Regions from separate parts of the Homo sapiens genome. Here region 1 is linked to region 2. Evidence: fine-mapped expression QTL. A gene starts in region 2. The other region holds a variant in brackets. All regions are shown on one strand. Distances are between the middles of the regions.

Region 1 (8,571 bases), 67 kb after region 2:
TCTGTAGGGTAGGTGTGTCCATGTGTGTTCATGTGTTCTAAGTGCCATGTGCTTGACAAATACATGTCACTGTAACCCATCACAGGCTGTGAGCATACCCACAGATGTTTCACAAACCAGTCTGTCTTGGTCCCGATTAATCCAGATTCTTAGAGTGTCCAGCCAATTTGGAAGCCAAAAAGTCACTGCACCCCACCAGGGCGTCCATCATGGCCTGACTACCTAAGCAGAGGGGGCTGTGGGAGGCAGGGAATGGAGAGAAGGACCAGGCCTAGTAACCTTGGGAGGCCAGAGCCCAAACAGCTCACCTCTCCCGGATGAGGGGACGAAGTACCACAATGTGTGAAATCTGGAAACTCCAATACTGCCGCCATTTAGACTAGGGGGCCCACGTGTGCTGCCCCTGCCCAAGAGATGTGTTCCCCACCTCAGTCACTCGAAGGACAGTCACTGGTCATCTATGCATGTCCCTGAGCTAAATGCTGGGAAGGTCAAAGGTAAACAGTACTCCAAAGAGCTTGGATGGGTGGGGCAATGGTCACACGTGGGAGAGACTGGTCTCCCAGGGCAGGAGTGCTTCACAGTCTTCAGCCAAATGCTGTAGGAACGTAGAGGAGGGAGGAGCTGCATAACTGTAAAAGTCAGCATATTTGGAAACAAGGCCTCCAGCATGAGAACAGGCACCAGACCAGTGTCCCCAGAGTCCCCAGATCAACAGGCCCCAAGAGAAGCAGGGCCACATTTAATCTCAGTGTTGGCGGGGCCAGACTAACAAGCCACCAGGCCATGTCATCTGGAACAGTGCGGAAATCACACAGACCCAGGGTCAGCCCAGAGCTCTTACCCTGCCAGAGCAGGAGAGGGGACACCGAACATGTGGGACTTCTGGTCACTGGCCTGGTCTCCTGTGCAGTCCCCAGAGACAGGGGCCACCGTGTAGGCCAAGGTGACTGCAGTCTCAGGAGACAGCCCACTGGGCCCAAAGATGGCCACGTGTGTGGTACCTGGAGCCCTCACCACGAATTATTTGGCAAAGAGCAGGTACTACTCCTTAGAGGTTTGAAGAGTTAACGAGCTGTCAACTAGGAGACCTGGCCCAAGGGGCAAGCCACCATCCTCTAGAACAGCGCTAATAGAACTTCCTGCAATCACAGAAATGTTCTGTATCTTTGCTGTCCAATATGGCAGCCACATTTAGCTACTGAGCACATGAAATGTGGCTAGTGCTACTGAAAGACTAACATTTTCTAATTAATTAAGTTTAATTTAAATAGCTACATATGACAAGTGGCTACCATACTGCTACCTATTGCAGCTCTAGAACACTGTAGTCACAAGTACTGTGCCAACTCTGATGGGCAGAGAGCAGCTGCCTCGAGCCCTGTGTTGAGAAGGATGCGGAGGGTTCGTATCTGTGACTGGCGGAAAGCAGACCCTTTGCATTCTCTCCTTGACCCAGATGCAGCAACTCAGTACCACCCTGGGCATAAAGGCCCAAGAAAATTATACCGACAAAATTTCCACCTTTACCCACGGCACTCCCTAAGCTCCGTCCTCTGCTTTCTCTCCACAGCCCTTCCCAGCTCCTGACATAGCACATACTCGTCTGTTTAATGTGTGTTGCCCACACTAGAATCTGTTCTGCTCACAACTGTATCCCCAGTGCCTAGAAAAGTCCTGAAATACTTGTGGTCTGAATTTTTTTTTTTTTTTTTTTTTTTTAAAGAGACAGGGTCCCGCTGTCTCCCAGGCTGGAGTGCTGAAGTGTAGTCACAGCTCACTGCACACTGATCTTGCTGGGCTCAGGTGATCCTCCCGCCTCAGCCTCCCAAGTAGCTGGGACTACAGGTGCGCACCACCACCATGCCTGGATTTTTTTTAAGTTTTTTTGTAGAGATAAGGTCTTGCCATGTCTGGTGTTGGACTCCTGGGCTCAAGAGGGGCTCAGTGACCCAGTTAGAATGTGAATGCAAGTCTTACTTGCAACCTTTGTTGACAGATCTTTCCATTTTCTAAGTGAGTCAAAAATCCAGGTTTTTATCCAGAATGTACAAATGTTTAAGTATTAGAAAATGTTAACACTCTGGGAAGGTCAAACAAAACAGATACCCACAGGCCAGCTGTGGTCCAAGGACTACCTAACTGATTCTTCCTGTTAATTAACAGATCTCCCAAATAGAGCCAGGAGGAAGTGCCAGCTGGTAAATGAGAGATCTCATTATTAAATGAAATAATCCAATGAAAACACCATCCAGGGCCTGGCACAAAATAAATGTTCAATAAAACTACACTCATTACTAACAAAACTTCATTCTTACAGCCAGATAAATATAAAATGCGCCACAACCCTGGCCACAATGCACAATTCTACAATTCTACAACTCTACAGTTCTCCAGCAATTCTACAACTGTTTGGAGAAAAATTCTGCTGGAGGATGTGGCAAAGGCTTAAGACCTGCCACAGCCCAGCAGAGCCCAGCTCAGAGGCCACACAGCCCATGCATGGGCCGTCAGCAGGACTGTCCTCACCAGCTCTGCTCAGGTCCACCCTGACACAGCCAACATCCTCCCACTGCCACCAGGAACCCACCACTGCTTTAGGACAACCTGTTTTCTATGGGTTCATCATCTGCATTATCTGAAATGTGGATTTGTTTTGCTAAGTCCTGGAATGTTGAAATGAAGAGCATTCTGTGACATCCAAGAGGTGAGAGTTGGAACCAACAGAAGGACCAGTGCCTACTTCGCATTATGGGGAACGCACCTGGCTTTTCTCACACTGAGAGGCATTCGAGGCTAAAAGAAAAACTAAAAATATTAGATATCTTTGTGGGTGGTTCTGTGAAGAAGATAGCGAGTACAATGCAAGGCTGATGCTGGGGGTGGGGACGTGTCTGTGTGTCTCCTGTGAAGCAGACAATGGATTTGACCCATTACATTAGACGCGGAGAATGCCATGATGCAGCCACGGTGCAACGAGCAAGACGCAGAGCAGCTATGGATCCACAGGCAGAGGCACAGCCCTCCCACTCGACACCAGCTTCGTCTCCTCTTCCCACTCTTAGTGGTCCCCCTGCCCCGACCTCACTGTTGCCAGGATAACAGTGGCATGGTGGGGCTTGGCACTAGAAGCCCAACCCCAGGCCAAGAGGCAACTGGCCTCTGGCTCTGACTCCCCTCTCCCCTACCAAGCGCCTATAAGAACAGGGCTCAGGGTTGATGACACCTTGTCCTAATAGCAAAAGGTCTTGGGGGAAACAGTGACCAGGCTTGGGCAAAGGTTACAGAGGAAGAACATTCAGAAAAGCAAGAGATACAATCCAAGCTTAGGAAATGGCAGCCTCCCAGTGTCCCAAGCTCCGGGGCTCCCAGGAGAGGGGCCTGACGCTTGTGGTCAATGGGCGGTTCTTCCCTGTAAGACCGGCATGAAGGAAAAACACCATCCCTAGTAACAGGTGACCCTGCACGTGGGTTAAAGCAGAAGGAGAGGTGGGGAGAGGCAGCTGTGTCTCTGTGCAGTCCCCCAAGACCTGAATGGAAACCCACCCAGCGTCCACCTCAGCTGTCTCCCCAGGATCCCAAGGGTGAAGATGGGGATGGCTTTCTACCCTAGACCCTGTGCAGTCTGCCCTGGGCTCTCCCTCTACGTGCCCTGGCTGCAGCATCCTCCTGTCTGAGGGTGGGCACTGTGGACAGTCCTCACCTCCGAGGGAGGACCAGGCACAGGGCCAGTTAACCACACAGGACGCGTGTGAAGGAAGCATAGGCCTGCCCCTGTCATCCCTCCATCTTCCCACATCCTCCGTCAACCATGTTCCGATCCCTGGGAAGTGATTCTGAGTATGATTCAGAGAGGCTCAGTTTTGTAGCTCCACCTGGCAGCAGGTGTGTGCTGAGTGGGTTTTCTGGGTGCCGCCTGTTGCCAGGTGGCGGCTGGGGTGCTTAGCAACCCTCAAGGTCCCCAACTAACCCCTGAAGTGTGGTCACATGGGAATAAAGACAAACAACTCCAGTTCTGTCCTCTGGGCCTCCTGCTCTACCCTCACATGCCCACAGAGCCGGGAGGCTGGACCAAGGTCAGCATGCACCCTGGCGGCCCCGCACCACAGGGAAGCGCCATGGCACTGCCTGCGAAGCCAGATATGTG[T/C]TCGGCAGAGGCAAAGAGGACGCTTCGCATGCCAGGGCTGCACCAAGAGCTCCAAATCCACAAGGCCTCAGGGCAGGGCAGGCTCCACTACCTCCCTGAAGGAGACTGGAGCCAGGGAGGTTAAAGCAGCAAAGCCACTGGAATCTGAGACCCTTGCCATTACCCAAATGCTCTGTTGCCTCAATGCACCCTTTGACATGTGGACATGCTCACCCCAGTGAGGAGGCAGAAAGGGATGCCTGTGCTTGAGGGACTGTGCCGCCTCACCCTCCTGGACCATGGCTGGCTGCCCACCCATCTGGGAGTTGACTGTCATTAGGAGGCTGGTCATCTTCATAACAGAAGGTACAACTTCCCAGGGGATGGCAAGAGAGAGAGCGGGCTCAGGTCACCAGCGCATCCCTACACCTCACTTCACAGCAGAGGAGGAAGCTGAGGCCCAGCGAGGAGACACCTGCTGGGACAGCCACATGGCCAGGGCTGCCCTTCAGCCGCACACTCTTAAGGCAGCTTAGAAAACAAGATAAATAGCCGAGCATGGGGCTCACGACTGCAATCCCAGCACTTTGGGAGGCCAAGGCAGGCAGATCACTTGAGATCAGGAGTTTGAGACCAGCTTGGCCAACATGGTGAAACCCCGTCTGTACTAGAAATACAAAAATTAGCTGTGTGTGGTGGTGGGCACCTGTAGTCCCAGCTACACGGGAGGCTCAGGCAGGAGAATCGCTTGAACCTGGGAGGTGGAGGTTGTAGTGAGCCAAGATCGTGCCACTGCACTCCAGCCTGGGCGAAAGAGTGAGACTCCATCTCAAAAAAAAAAAAAAAAAAAGATAAGAGCACCTGACCAAATAAAAAGTGAGACATGGACCCTGGGCACTCAATTCTGGAAGGAGGCCCCTTTTTTGCAGAGGGTAGATTAACGATTGTTTTTATAGGAGACACTCATAATTTTTTTAAATGGAGAATTTTCTTAAAAAAGACATTAAGCACACATGTAAGTAAGGGATGGCCTGCTCTGACACTGACCTCAAATGGCTCTTTGGAGCCACTTCCAAACCAGGTTCTGTTTCCTCTCATACCAGGACTGTCTGCGGCCCTTTCCAAAGTGTTTTTCCATCTATTATCTCATTTTTATTCTCATGAGGAGCTTTTACAGGAGGAAAGTGAAACGGGGTCATGCAGCCTCTAGTACCGGCCTGCACTCAGCTCCGAAGACCCGTCAGCTGATGTTTCTGAAACGTCAAATCAGCCCAGAGCCCACGCCACTCCCAACGTCAGCCCCAATGCCTTGGGAGGGAGTGACCTCTGTCCTGGCTGGAAGAGAGAAGGGGAAGGATGCACAGGCCCCAGCCAGCTCCCATCCTACCTCACCACCCTGACTTCAGCCGGTGCCTCCCCAGGGGCTGGGGGCCAGCGTGACGGCATCTTGGAGCCCCAAAGGGCTTCATGGTTTTTAGACTCCCCTCTGCCTTATTTCATGTGATTCCCAAACTATCCCCTAACAATGGTATTATTTTTAATCCCATTTTCAGAAAATTAAACTAAAGACCAGAGAGGTAAAGTACCAACACCACACAGAGAAAGCCAGGGCTCACAGTCCCCCAAAAACGCTGGCAGAGGCTGTGGATGCAAATCCAGGTCCAAGATGACCAGCGGGGTCATCCCTCCCCAACCCCCAGTACAGACAGGTATCCACCACAAGGTGAGGCTGGAGCATAGGACTGTGGGACTGTGCTAGGGTCTGGGTCCCTTGTCCTCACGTGCAAGGCCTGTCCCAGGGCTCACCAGGTCCCTTTCTATCTGGTTTTAAAAATCAATCTCGGTAGCCGGGCGCGGTGGCTCACGCCTGTAATCCCAGCACTTTGGGAGGCTGAGGTGGGCGGATCACGAGGTCAGGAGATCGAGACCATCCTGGCTAACACGGTGAAACCCCGTCTCTACTAAAAATACAAAATATTTGCCGGGCATGGTGGCGGGCACCTGTAGTCCCAGCTACACGGGAGGCTGAGGCAGGAGAATGGCGTGAACCCGGAAGGCGGAGCTTGCAGTGAGCCGAGATCGTGCCACTGCACTCCAGCCTCGGGGACAGAGCGAGACTCCGCCTCAAAAAAAAAAAATTAATTAATTAAAAAAAATAAAAACAAATAAAAATCAAGCTCGGGTCCCAAGTTTTCTTTTGGGGGAAGATGTTGCGGAACTAGCTAGAGGTGGTGGTGGCACAACATGGTGAGTGTACTAAACCACTTTCAAGGGGTTTCATTTTAGCTCTATAAAAAAGAAAAAAAAATGAAGCAAACCTGAGTTTTTCTAACTGCATATCTAATTTATAATACCATATTCATTTTTAAAAATTATTTTTCAAAAAAAGTCCCAGATTAAGGGAGGTTTTGGTGGCCTCTTCTACTTTTCTATATCTTCAAAATTGTATCCAACAATCATATGATGGTAGAGAGTTTGAGTGTCTATGTGCAGGCACTGTGCAATAACTACTTAACACTTATCTCCCCTAAGGCCATAGGAGAGGGGCAGAGACTCTGGTACTTGGCTCTCAGCTGCTATACTATGTGAGAGGAAGGTGTTACATTTATAATCTCTTAATCAGGATAAAACATGGCTAGGACACTCTCAAATATCAGGACCAAAAAAAAGGCTTGAAGGAATATGCCTCTGTGATGGTTAATACTAAGTGTCAACTTGATTGGATTGAAGGATACAAAGTATTGATCCTGGGTGTGTCTGTGAGGGTGTTGCCAAAGGAGTTTAACATTTGAGTCGGTGGGCTGGGAAAGGCAGACCCACCCTAAATCTGGGTGGGCACAATCTAATCAGTGGCCAGTTTGCTAGAATATAAACAGGCAGAAAAAGGTGAAAAGAGAGACTGGCCTAGCCTCCATACAGCCTACACTTTTCTCCTGTGCTGGATGCATCCAGCTCTCCAACAGTGGACTTGAAGTTCTTCAGTGTTGGAACTCGGACAGGCTCTCCTTGCTCTTACCTGCAGATGGCCTATTGTGGGACCTTGTGATCATGTGAGTCAAAACTTAATAAACTCCCCTTCATAGATATCTATTCCATTAGTTCTGTCCCTCTAGAGAACCCTAATACAGCCTCTATCAGTCTTTTATTTTAGAGATGGAGGTCTCACTATGTTGGCCAGGTTGGTCTTGAGCTCTTGGCCTCAAGCAATCCTCCTGCCTCAACCTCCTAAAGTGTTAGGATTACAGGCGTTGAGCCACTATGCCAACCTCTTTTTTATTTCTTTATAATTGTATATTCTTGCCAAATATTACACAGTGTAGGCCAAGAAAGCAAAGGAACTCTTCCAAACTTGAGTTTATCTGTCTGTGGCTTGAGCCAAATGAGGATAAGGCAGGAAACAGCCCACAGGATGTCACTCCTGCCTTGAGGCTGGTTCCCTGGGGCTGGGGTTTTCAAATAGGAATCCTTTGGGGAGGGTTTCCAAAAGCAATGAGGTATTTTCTAGATAAACAAGGAAAACTTAAGTGCCTAAGTATACTCTCACTCATTGCTGGTGGAGTATAAATTGTTTGAAGCTCTATAGGAGGCCGGACGTGGTGGCTCATGCCTGTAATCCCAGCACTTTGGGAGGCCAAGGCAGGCGGATCACCAGAGGTCAGGAGTTCGAGACTAGCCTGTCTAACATGGTGAAACCCCGTCTCTACTAAAAATACAAGAAAAATTAGCTGGGAGTGGTGGTGGGCACCTGTAATCCCAGCTACTCGGGACGCTGAAGCAGGAGAATAGCTTGAACCCGGAGGCGGAAGCTGCAGTGAGCTGAGATCGCACCACTGCATTCCAACCTGGGCGACAGAGCAAGACTCTGTCTCAAAAAAACAAAACAAAACAAAAAAAGCACATTCCAGATTCCTCAAAAAATTAAACACAGAACTACCATATGACCTGGCAATTCCACTTTTGGGTATATATCCAAAAGAACTGAAAACAGGGACTCAAACAGATATCTGTACACCCGTGTTCACAGCAGCACCATTCCCAATAGCAAAGCCGCAGAAAACACCCAAATGTCCAAATGAACAAACAAAACGTGGTGTATACATGCAAGGAGATATCAGCCTTAACGGGAAAGAAATGCTGATCTGCCCGACGACACAGAAGAACCTTGAAGACATCATGCTAAGTGAAATAAGCCAGTCAAAAAGGGACAAATACATGATTCCGCTTATATAAAGGACCTAGTAGAGGCAAATTCAGAGACACAGTAGAACAGTGGTTACCAGAGTCTGGGAGAATGGGCAGTTATTGTTTAATGGGCACAGAGTTTCTCTTTGGGATGATGAAAAAGTTCTGGAAACGGACAGTGGTGATGGCTGCACGACATTGTGAATGCACTTAATGCCACTGAATTGTATACTTAATGATTAAAATGGTAAATTTTATACTAT
Region 2 (8,571 bases):
TAAGTAAAGTCCAGGGGCAGGAAAGGGAGGGGAGGAGTAGTAACATTCAACTCCCATGCCAGAGACTGGAGAATAGCAACTGGAGGGACTCTGTGGAAACATCAAGTTTGAATAAGGGAATAGAAGATTCAACTAAAAAGATAAGTAGGAGGCCGGGCACGGTAGCTCACACCTGTAATCCCAGCACTTTGGGAGTCCGAGGCTGGCGGATCACCTGAGGTCAGGAATTGGAGACCAGCTTGGCCAACATGGTGAAACCCCGTCTCTACTAAAAAAACACAAAAATTAGCCAGCTATGGTGGCATGCACCTGTAATCCCAGCTACTCGGGAGGCTGAGGCAGGAGAATGGCTTGAACCCAGGAGGCGCAGGTTGCAGTGAGCAGAGATGGCGCCACTGCACTCCAGCCTGGGCAACAGAGAGAGACTCCATCTCGAAAAAACAAAAAAGATAGGTAGGAAATACACATGAGGAGGGCCTGAAGTCTAAGCTAAGGAGTGCTGGGATTACTCCATAGGCAGAGAGGAGCCTAGACTACACAGGTAGGTGTTCAGTCGTCCTATGTGGTGGCAAAGCAGCTGCTGGATTGGAGTGTCACACTGGCGGTGAACAGACCGTGGGACACGCCAGTGAGCAAAATGAGAGGCTGACACAGGGCAACGGCACTGAAATGACAAGAAAACAGCTGTAGTACTTGACAGATTTCATTGAATCTAATAAATCTGTATGTATGTACATATATATAGACACACACAAATTTTAACTTGTTATTAATCTTTATAGAGACAGTGTCTCACTCTGTTGCCCAGGCTGGAGTGCGGTGGCATGATTAGAACTGACTGTAACCTTGAACTCATGGGCTCAAGCGATCCTCCTGCCTTGGCTTCCCAAAACCCTGGAATTAACAGATGTGAGCCACCACACTGGCCAAATTTTAACATCTTTGTTATTGAAATACAAGTGTTTAATTTGCCGGCATATTTTTTAACAATACATAAAATACTACCGCATCTTAAAGTTGATGTTATCTTAGATTCAATGAAATATGATAACTGGATGTGAATAAGAAGGAATTCAAAAGCAAAGTTTCAAACCCGAGTGACTGGAAGGGAGTTTCCTTGAGCCCCACAGGAGAGTCTAACCAAATCTTCTATTTGAGCAATGATCCCCAGACAATACTGCTCTCCCACCTTCCCCACTTGAACTTATTAATAAGAGGAAGTAGTTATTAATGACAACTTTAATATGAACATGTGCTTAACCCTCAAGAAATTGTCACAACTGAAAGACGGGAGCAAGCTGACACTGCAAGGAACACATGATGCTTTGGAATGGGTGGCCTGCGTATTCAAACACATCAAAGCAGCAGTTACTTGAACAATCGGAACTTCTTCAAATACTGGCCCACTTCTTCCTTGGGGTAGGGCCGGAGAGCAATACAAGTGGCGATATTCTCTGGTTGCTCAAGCCACAGCATGTGGTCAATGTTCTTCTGTTGCAGGGTCTCGGCCAGCTCCTTTAGGGTGGTCTCATCTGGGGCCTAAAGGAGAAGAACACAGAACACAAACTGAATAGCCCACTTAGGAAGTGTCAAAAGGCCAAAAAAGGTTTCGGGAGTCCTCTTGCCTGAAAGTGGAGTAACAGCTTTACCAAGGAGGGAGCTGCAGAGCAATGATGTCATTCCGTGGTGCACTGGGGAGGGGAGAGAGGCTTCATATTCCAGTTTAGAAAATGGAGATTTGTATCTTCCCTTGTGAGATGTTGTATGCCCAACACACACATGTGTAATGTGTAATTCTGCTCTATACATTTTCCAGCTCTCCTATGGCTGGCGCCCATAATTTTAAGTGCCTCTGACTTTAAGAGCTGCCTAGTGGAAGTTTTTTTTTTTTTTTCTTTTGAGACAGAGTCTTGCTCTGTCGCCTGGGCTAGAGTGCAGTGGCACGATTATCAGCTCACTGCAGTCTCTGGCTCCCGAGTTCAAGCAATTCTCCTGCCTCAGCCTCCCGAGTAGCTGGGATTACAGGCGCACACCACTACACCTGGCTAATTTTTGTATTTTTAGTAGAGACGGGGTTTCACCATGTTGCCCAGGCTGGTCTGGAGCTCCTGACCTCAAGCAATCCACCCACCTAAGCCTCCCAAAGTGCTAGGATTACAGGAGTGAGCCACCATGCCCGGCCCCTAGTGGAAGGATTTCTAAAAGCACATCCACTTCCACTTTCCTCCACCCCTCCCACTCTACCTCACTGAAACCTAGAGGGGTTTTCCTTCTGCTGGGATGGCTCCCACTTGTTTATTAAAGGGAGAGTACAATATTCTCTAACATCCTTCTGAAATTGTTTCTGGGTCATCCTTACTGCCAATTCACCCATGCTGAATCCCATTCCAGGAAGTATTAAAACGATCACTCAGAAAATTATTATTTTTGTGTTATTTTGCATAAAGTTTATCTCTTACCTATGAAGGCAGAAGCCACTAAGCTACTCAGAGGCTTGTTTTAATAAATTAGAGAATGCCAGTATTGCGACTCTTAACCTGCTGAGTCCTTCTGGCAGAGCTCTGCTGGAGGACTCATCAGCTTCTTCAGCCTCGGGCAGCAGCAGAGCATAGTGAGATACAGTGAGGCTCTGGAATCAGACTACTGGACTCCAAACTCTTGCTGACTGTGTGATCGTGGATAAGTTAGGTGACTTCGCTGGCCTCTTCGTCCCTTTATAAAACAGGAATAATGCTTCCTAATGGGGATCAATGAAATCAGGCTTGGACCTGTGCCTGGCACACACTAAGCACTCAATAAATGTAGTTAATCCTGGTATTTTCTTATATTTTATTGGCCCTTCTGACTACAGCGGCACCTCAATGTAATCAGTAGCGACTCCTAAGTCCCTTTCTTGAGTCATGACTAACAACTAAGAATCATGAGACCCTCTTTTAAACTCAGGGGAGTCACTTAATCCCTGTAGGCTTCAGAGAGTTTCACCTGCGACAAGAGGAGTCTAACCTGATTTCTTGAGACCTCTTACTAGGAAGAAAATCTAAGTGAAAAGCCAGCAGCTTCTGTTCTGCCTACACAGATTCTCAAGGCATTTTTCCTACAGGTTACCGCTTGATGTTTCACTATCCAGCAGCAATTTTTCTCTTGAAAGATAATCTATCTTTGTCAGTTACCCATGAAGGGATTACTCCACCCCTCCACCTGAGTTCTGGCTTAAAGCCGTTTTTCCTTATTATAAAAAGCCGTTTATTATTAAAGCCGTTTTTCCTTATTATAAAATATGTGCTTAAGGTAGAAAATTTTAAAAATACAGATTAAGCATTAGGAAATAACCAAAATCTCACCATGCACTACTTAATATGTAGATGTATTTCTTTAGTTTTTCCTTTCAAAGTCTGGATCATTCTGTATATATAGTTCAGTTAGCTTCGCATCATGAGCACTCTTCCCGACCACTAAATATGCTTCAAAACCATAAGGGCTCCCATGAATATCCTTGTGCAAAGCTCTTTGGGTGCATCTGATTATTTTCTTAGGCTACATCTCTAGCAGCAGGATAGAGAGTCAAAGGGTAAGGGTGAGATTTGTTTGGTCATCTGCAAACAGAACCTGACTGCTATTTTAAAAGGTGTACCGATTTACACACCTGGTGCCTGGTCTAGCTGAAGCTAGGTTCAATTTATACTAACGTTTTTAGTATTTATTTTCAAATAATTTGGCGTCCTACCCAGGTAAATACTCAGTTTGACTTCACTTTGCACTGTCCCTTCGGGCTCGGTTTTGCAGGAGGACAGCACTTTGGGGCATGGCTTTAAAAAGTCGGCCAGTGCACAGGCGGAACAGCGGGGACACAGGAGCCACCACTTTACCGCGAGCCCAGCAGGGGGCGGAGGACTGCTGTCCACTCTTCACACAGTCAGGCCCTTCCCAAGGGCGCACCTCCAGGGAAACAGCTCCAGTCTAAATGTTAACGATCACCCCAACTCCCGCCGCACCCACTCCCCGCAGCCAGGCCTTCGGACCGAAGACCACACCCACTTCCGCCCTCGATGTCTCAGCACCTCCCCCTCCGCCCGAGTGCCTCACCTCGAGGACCACTTTGCGCATGCGCCCCAGCTCTTGGAGGTAAGCGGCTGTGTGCGGGTGGTCGCGGTGAGTGTGCAAGGCCGCGGTGGCCGCGTGACAAGCCTGCGCTACCAGTGCGCCCGCCGGCCAGGAGAACGGAGCTTGTGATAGATCCTTTCGTAACACCAAGTATTGTACCAGGACCTGCGGCTCCGCCCCAGAGGCCGCCATCTTCCTGACCACCCGAAAGGCCGGACCTACTCCCCGGTGCATCTTGGGATCAGGGCGGGGCCCTGAGCGCCGCCATGCTTTTGTACGGCAGGATCGCAAAGCACGCCGGGACCGGTTGGTTTGGTTTTGAAGACGTGGATGGCGGGAATTCTCGCTTCTGGCCTGGGTGAGCTAGAAGGGAGAAGGTAGGGGAAAGACCCATTGTCGGACCGGACCGTGGCCAGGGTGGCGGGCTGAACGGCCTTCTTAAAACTCCTTCCGTGGCCGGGAAGCCCGCTGGACCAGAGTAGCCGTGGCCTCGGGAGCGCGCCGGGGCCGCGGGATGGGCGCGGGGGTGGGCATGGACTCTGCTGGCTCGGACGATGGGAGAGGGCGGGCGGCTCAGGAAAGGGGATCCTAGCCGTGACATTTGTGTCATCCGCGGCCCAGGGGTTGTGCCTGAGTGGTGTGTGCCCTGCCGTCTGGGTTTGAATGGGACTAGATGTGATGTGACTGTTGCCATTTTTCTTTTATTAGCAAGGACATTGGAGTCCCTATCACCGGTTGCCTAGACAACTTCATGGGAAGGCCCTTGGGAATCTGAGATGGAGCAGGCGAACCCTTTACGTCCAGATGGCGAGTCCAAAGGAGGTATTCAGAGGGTCGCCGCCTCCTTCCTGCTGCTGCCCAAAGATGACCCGCAGGCTGAGAGAGCCCTTTCCTCCTGGAACTGACGTGGGACCTGGCCTGTTTGGGAGCAGAATAGTGAAAGGAACTAACATTGAAGACAAAGGGACAGGCAGCCAAGATTATTCGAGGAGGAAAAATGGCTTCGTTTCTAGGCTCCCACCCCTTTTGAAACGGATAAGTTGCATCCATCATATGCTCAGTGTTTATATTCTGAACTGCGGTTCTAGCCAGGGAGGTCCCTTTCCTCTCCCCGGATTTTTTGGGCCATGTATGCATTACTCTTGAGGGAGGGCCAGTGTAGGGCAGTGACTTTAGTGTTGGCTAGAACTGGTTTTGAGTGTTGGCTCTGCCATGATAAATATTGTGACCTTAGGCAAGTCACTTTATTCTCTGCCTCTGTTTCTTCATCTGGAAAATGGAGGTGAAAATAGCACTGTAGTTGTGGTTGTGGAAAAAGTATTTCTTTTGTGGTGGAAAAGTATTGAACTCAGACTTTTCAAGTGAAGCATTTAGCACATGTCTAATATATAGGAAATATTCAATGAAAGGCTTAATTCTTTACATACTTTGTGTCTTAAAATGTAGAAGGTGTTTAAAGAATGCTTGTTAGAGTTGCTTAGAATTACGAAACTATTACTTTTACTTAGTCCTTAGTCAATCCTTTGGAAACTGAGATTTGCGTTTGAATTTCTGTCCAGGAGTAAGTTGCTTTCTTCTTTAGTGCCTAGTAATATTTGTGGACAGTTCTGGTTTTGTGTGACTTTATGTTCTTTGCTACTAATACTTTTTAGAACTTTGAAATACTTACTCAAGCCTGATGCCTAAATCCAAAGGGTTCTACGTTAGTACTTTGGGAAAGCTTGCCATAAAACCTAACTTAAATTACAGTTTTAAAAAGAATTTCTGAGCGCGTCAGTGAATTTGGTTATCCTATTTTTCTCTGGGTCATCATTATCATTGATAACAGAGAAGTAACTATATTCAGCCTAAGATGACTTAAGCTGAGACTTTAGATAATAAAAGTATATGGGGTAAGATTTATTGTTACTTTAAGACTAAAAATAAGTTTGGTGACTTTATGTAGTGGAAACATGCTACACTCAGGAGTAACCTGTTCTCTAGTCCAGGCCTTATTTCATTTCTGTTAAAGTAAGTGATGAGGTGGAAGTTTTGGATTATCAAGAGACTTAGACCAGTCTCCTTATTCTCTACCCAAAACAATATTTAAACACTTAGCTGTTACCCATACTGGTTTTATCCCTCTGCTTGTTTGATTTCAGTTTTTTGCTTATTATTTGAATTCTCCCCACTCATTTGAGAAGGAAGGACATGGAGTTGTAGTTGCAACCAGATGATTTATTCAAATAGGCAGGGATTTTGACTTTTTTTGGGACAAAGCTGACTGGCTAGGATGAGATGCAATCATAACTTCCAAGGTAAAGCAGGCCCAGCAGATACACTCCCTCTTTTCTGTAGTAGCAACGCTAAACAACAACGCTACCCCCTTGGTGTAGAGGGAATCAGGTCGGTAAAGAAGCTGGGCAGGTTTGAGAGCCTGAGAAGAGGGCTGTGTGGAAGTGCCTAGAGAAGGAGCAGCATGATACTGTTTTGAACACCTACTTATCTCAGAAACTTTGGGAATATTGATATCTACTGTTTTAGTAATATAGAATTTCCATAAAGTAGAATTTGGTGAGGCGTCTCCTCTACCACCCTAAATTATTCTATGTGTGCGTGCTTTTCAGATCACCTCCTGGTTGGACATTAATTTTTGTAAGCTCCGTGAGGACAGGGACTTCGTTTTGCCACCACAGTATGAATAACTTCCAGCACGGTCCTTGGTCCATAGTAAATTCTCAATGCATAGTTGTTGGATAAATAGAGATTGGTGAATAAAGCAGTTAATCACGTGCTAATTATTAGGACTAATTTATTTAATTAGAATTTTGGTTTCTCACGATTATTATTGCGGTAATGTGGGTTTTTCTGTGGACATGAGCCAAGTGAATGTAATCTCCAAGAGTGTCATGCCTGGTTGTCCGTGTTTCGGTAAACATTTCCGGAGTGTTGGCCGGGCGCGGTGGCTCACACCTGTAATCCCAGCACTTTGGGAGGCCAAAGCGGGTGGATCACAAGGTCAGGAGTTCAAGACCAGTCTGGCTAACATAGTGAAACCCCATCTCTACTAAAAATACAAAAATTAGCCGGGCATCGTGGTGCATGCCTGTAGTCCCAGCTAATTGGGAGGCTGAAGCAGGAGAATTGCTTGAACCTGGGAGGTAGAGGTTGCAGTGAGCTGAGATCGCGCCACTGCACTCCAGCTTGGGCAACAGAGTGAGATTTCGTCTCAGAAAAAAATAACCATTTCCGGAGTGTTTACCATGTGTAAACACTTTGTGCTAGGGTTAAGGGATCCATGGGTGAACACAAATGCACACGGTCCCTGATTTTGGAACTTTAAGGTTCAGTGGAAAAGATAAGCAAATCAAATAATCACACTAATGAATATACAATTAAAACTATAGTGGCCGGGTGCGGTGGCTCACGCCTGTAATCCTAGCACTTTGGGAAGCCGAGGTGGGAGGATCGCTTGAGCTTAGGAGTTTGAGACCAGCCTGGGAAACATAGTGAGACCCCATCTCTTTATTTAAAAAACAAAAACAAAAAAACTATAGTATTGTCTCAGAAGGATCTTTGAGAGCTTATGAGCTGGCACCTGACCTTGTTCTGAAGGTGCTACAAAGGTTTCCCTGAGGAAATGCTGCTTGCATTGAGTGCTAACGAGCTAGAGTAGCTGCAGGTGAAGGTGGATAAGGGGCGGCTGTGGAAGAGCCTTTGGTGTGTGTGTTGGGGGTGGGGGGATCAGGTCAGTAAAGACGCTGGGCGGGTTTGAGAGCCTGAGAGGAGGCCTGTGTGGAAATGCCTAGAGAAGGAGCAGCATGATACTGATGAGGGTAAGAGAGATCCAGAGGCCAGTAGGCCTCGTAGGCAGTGTGAAGTCATCGAAAGGCTTTAGCCAGCTGGATGACACGATCCAGTTTAGATTTTGAAATATGGCTTCAGTGTATGGGCCACCTAGGAAACTTGTAATAGGCCAGAAATGGTAGTAGCTTGAACTACAATGGTGGCATTGCAGATGGGGAAAATGGAAATATTTTAGAGATACTAGGAATGTATATTCAATAGGATCTGGTAATGGATTGGGACTGGGTCAGGGAGAAGGTGTGAGGAAGAAAGTACTGGTTTACACAGCTATAGATGGATAATGGTTCCAGTCATGGAGGGGTTTAGAAGGGGAGATGATGAATTCAGTCTTGGACATGTTGATTGTCAGGTTCCTGTAAGTCTTCCAAGTAGATACACTGAGAAGGCAGGTGGATATTCTGCTTTCTCAAGAAGCAGGAGAGAGGTATAAGCTAGAGATACATATTTGTGTGGCATCGACATGTATGGCCATTAAGGCTGTGGGTACTGATGAGATTTCTTCTGGAAAGAAGAGGTCTTAGGACTGAGCTCTGGAAAATTTCAGCATTTAATGGTCAAGGAGGAGAGTAGGAGCCTTCAAAGCAGAAAGTGGGGTCAGAGAGGTAAAATGTAAGTGTCACAAAA

Which allele goes with the higher level. Alleles are on the strand shown, and positions count from the first base shown. SD is a standard deviation of normalised expression in the study named.
With allele C in place of T in region 1, the expression in tibial artery of the gene that starts at base 4,383 in region 2 is higher (small effect, 0.31 SD a copy in GTEx).

The links. PIP is the estimated chance that this variant, and not a neighbour inherited with it, causes the effect.
Region 1: its variant is fine-mapped to the expression of CENPO in tibial artery (GTEx, PIP above 0.99).

The regions. Positions count from the first base shown.
Region 1 is chr2:24,856,294-24,864,864 of GRCh38, forward strand. All of the region lies in intron 3 of ADCY3 (adenylate cyclase 3), which reads right to left. Among named protein-coding and RNA genes, the nearest start is that of ADCY3, 60 kb to the right of the region's middle. The variant T/C (reference allele first, on the strand shown) is at 4,148.
Region 2 is chr2:24,789,043-24,797,613 of GRCh38, forward strand. CENPO (centromere protein O) reads left to right here and starts at 4,383. Exons shown (of 8, transcript NM_001322101.2): 1 at 4,383-4,459; 2 at 4,810-4,923. The coding sequence starts at 4,878. It overlaps PTRHD1 (peptidyl-tRNA hydrolase domain containing 1), which reads right to left and starts at 4,349. Exons shown (of 2, transcript NM_001013663.2): 1 at 4,084-4,349; 2 at 686-1,539. The coding sequence starts at 4,335. The coding sequence ends at 1,369. It overlaps LOC105369164 (a long non-coding RNA gene), which reads right to left and starts at 4,033. Exons shown (of 3, transcript XR_939843.4): 1 at 3,725-4,033; 2 at 3,342-3,542; 3 at 1,550-2,737. RefSeq lists a silencer at 2,169-2,248 and an enhancer at 4,010-4,439.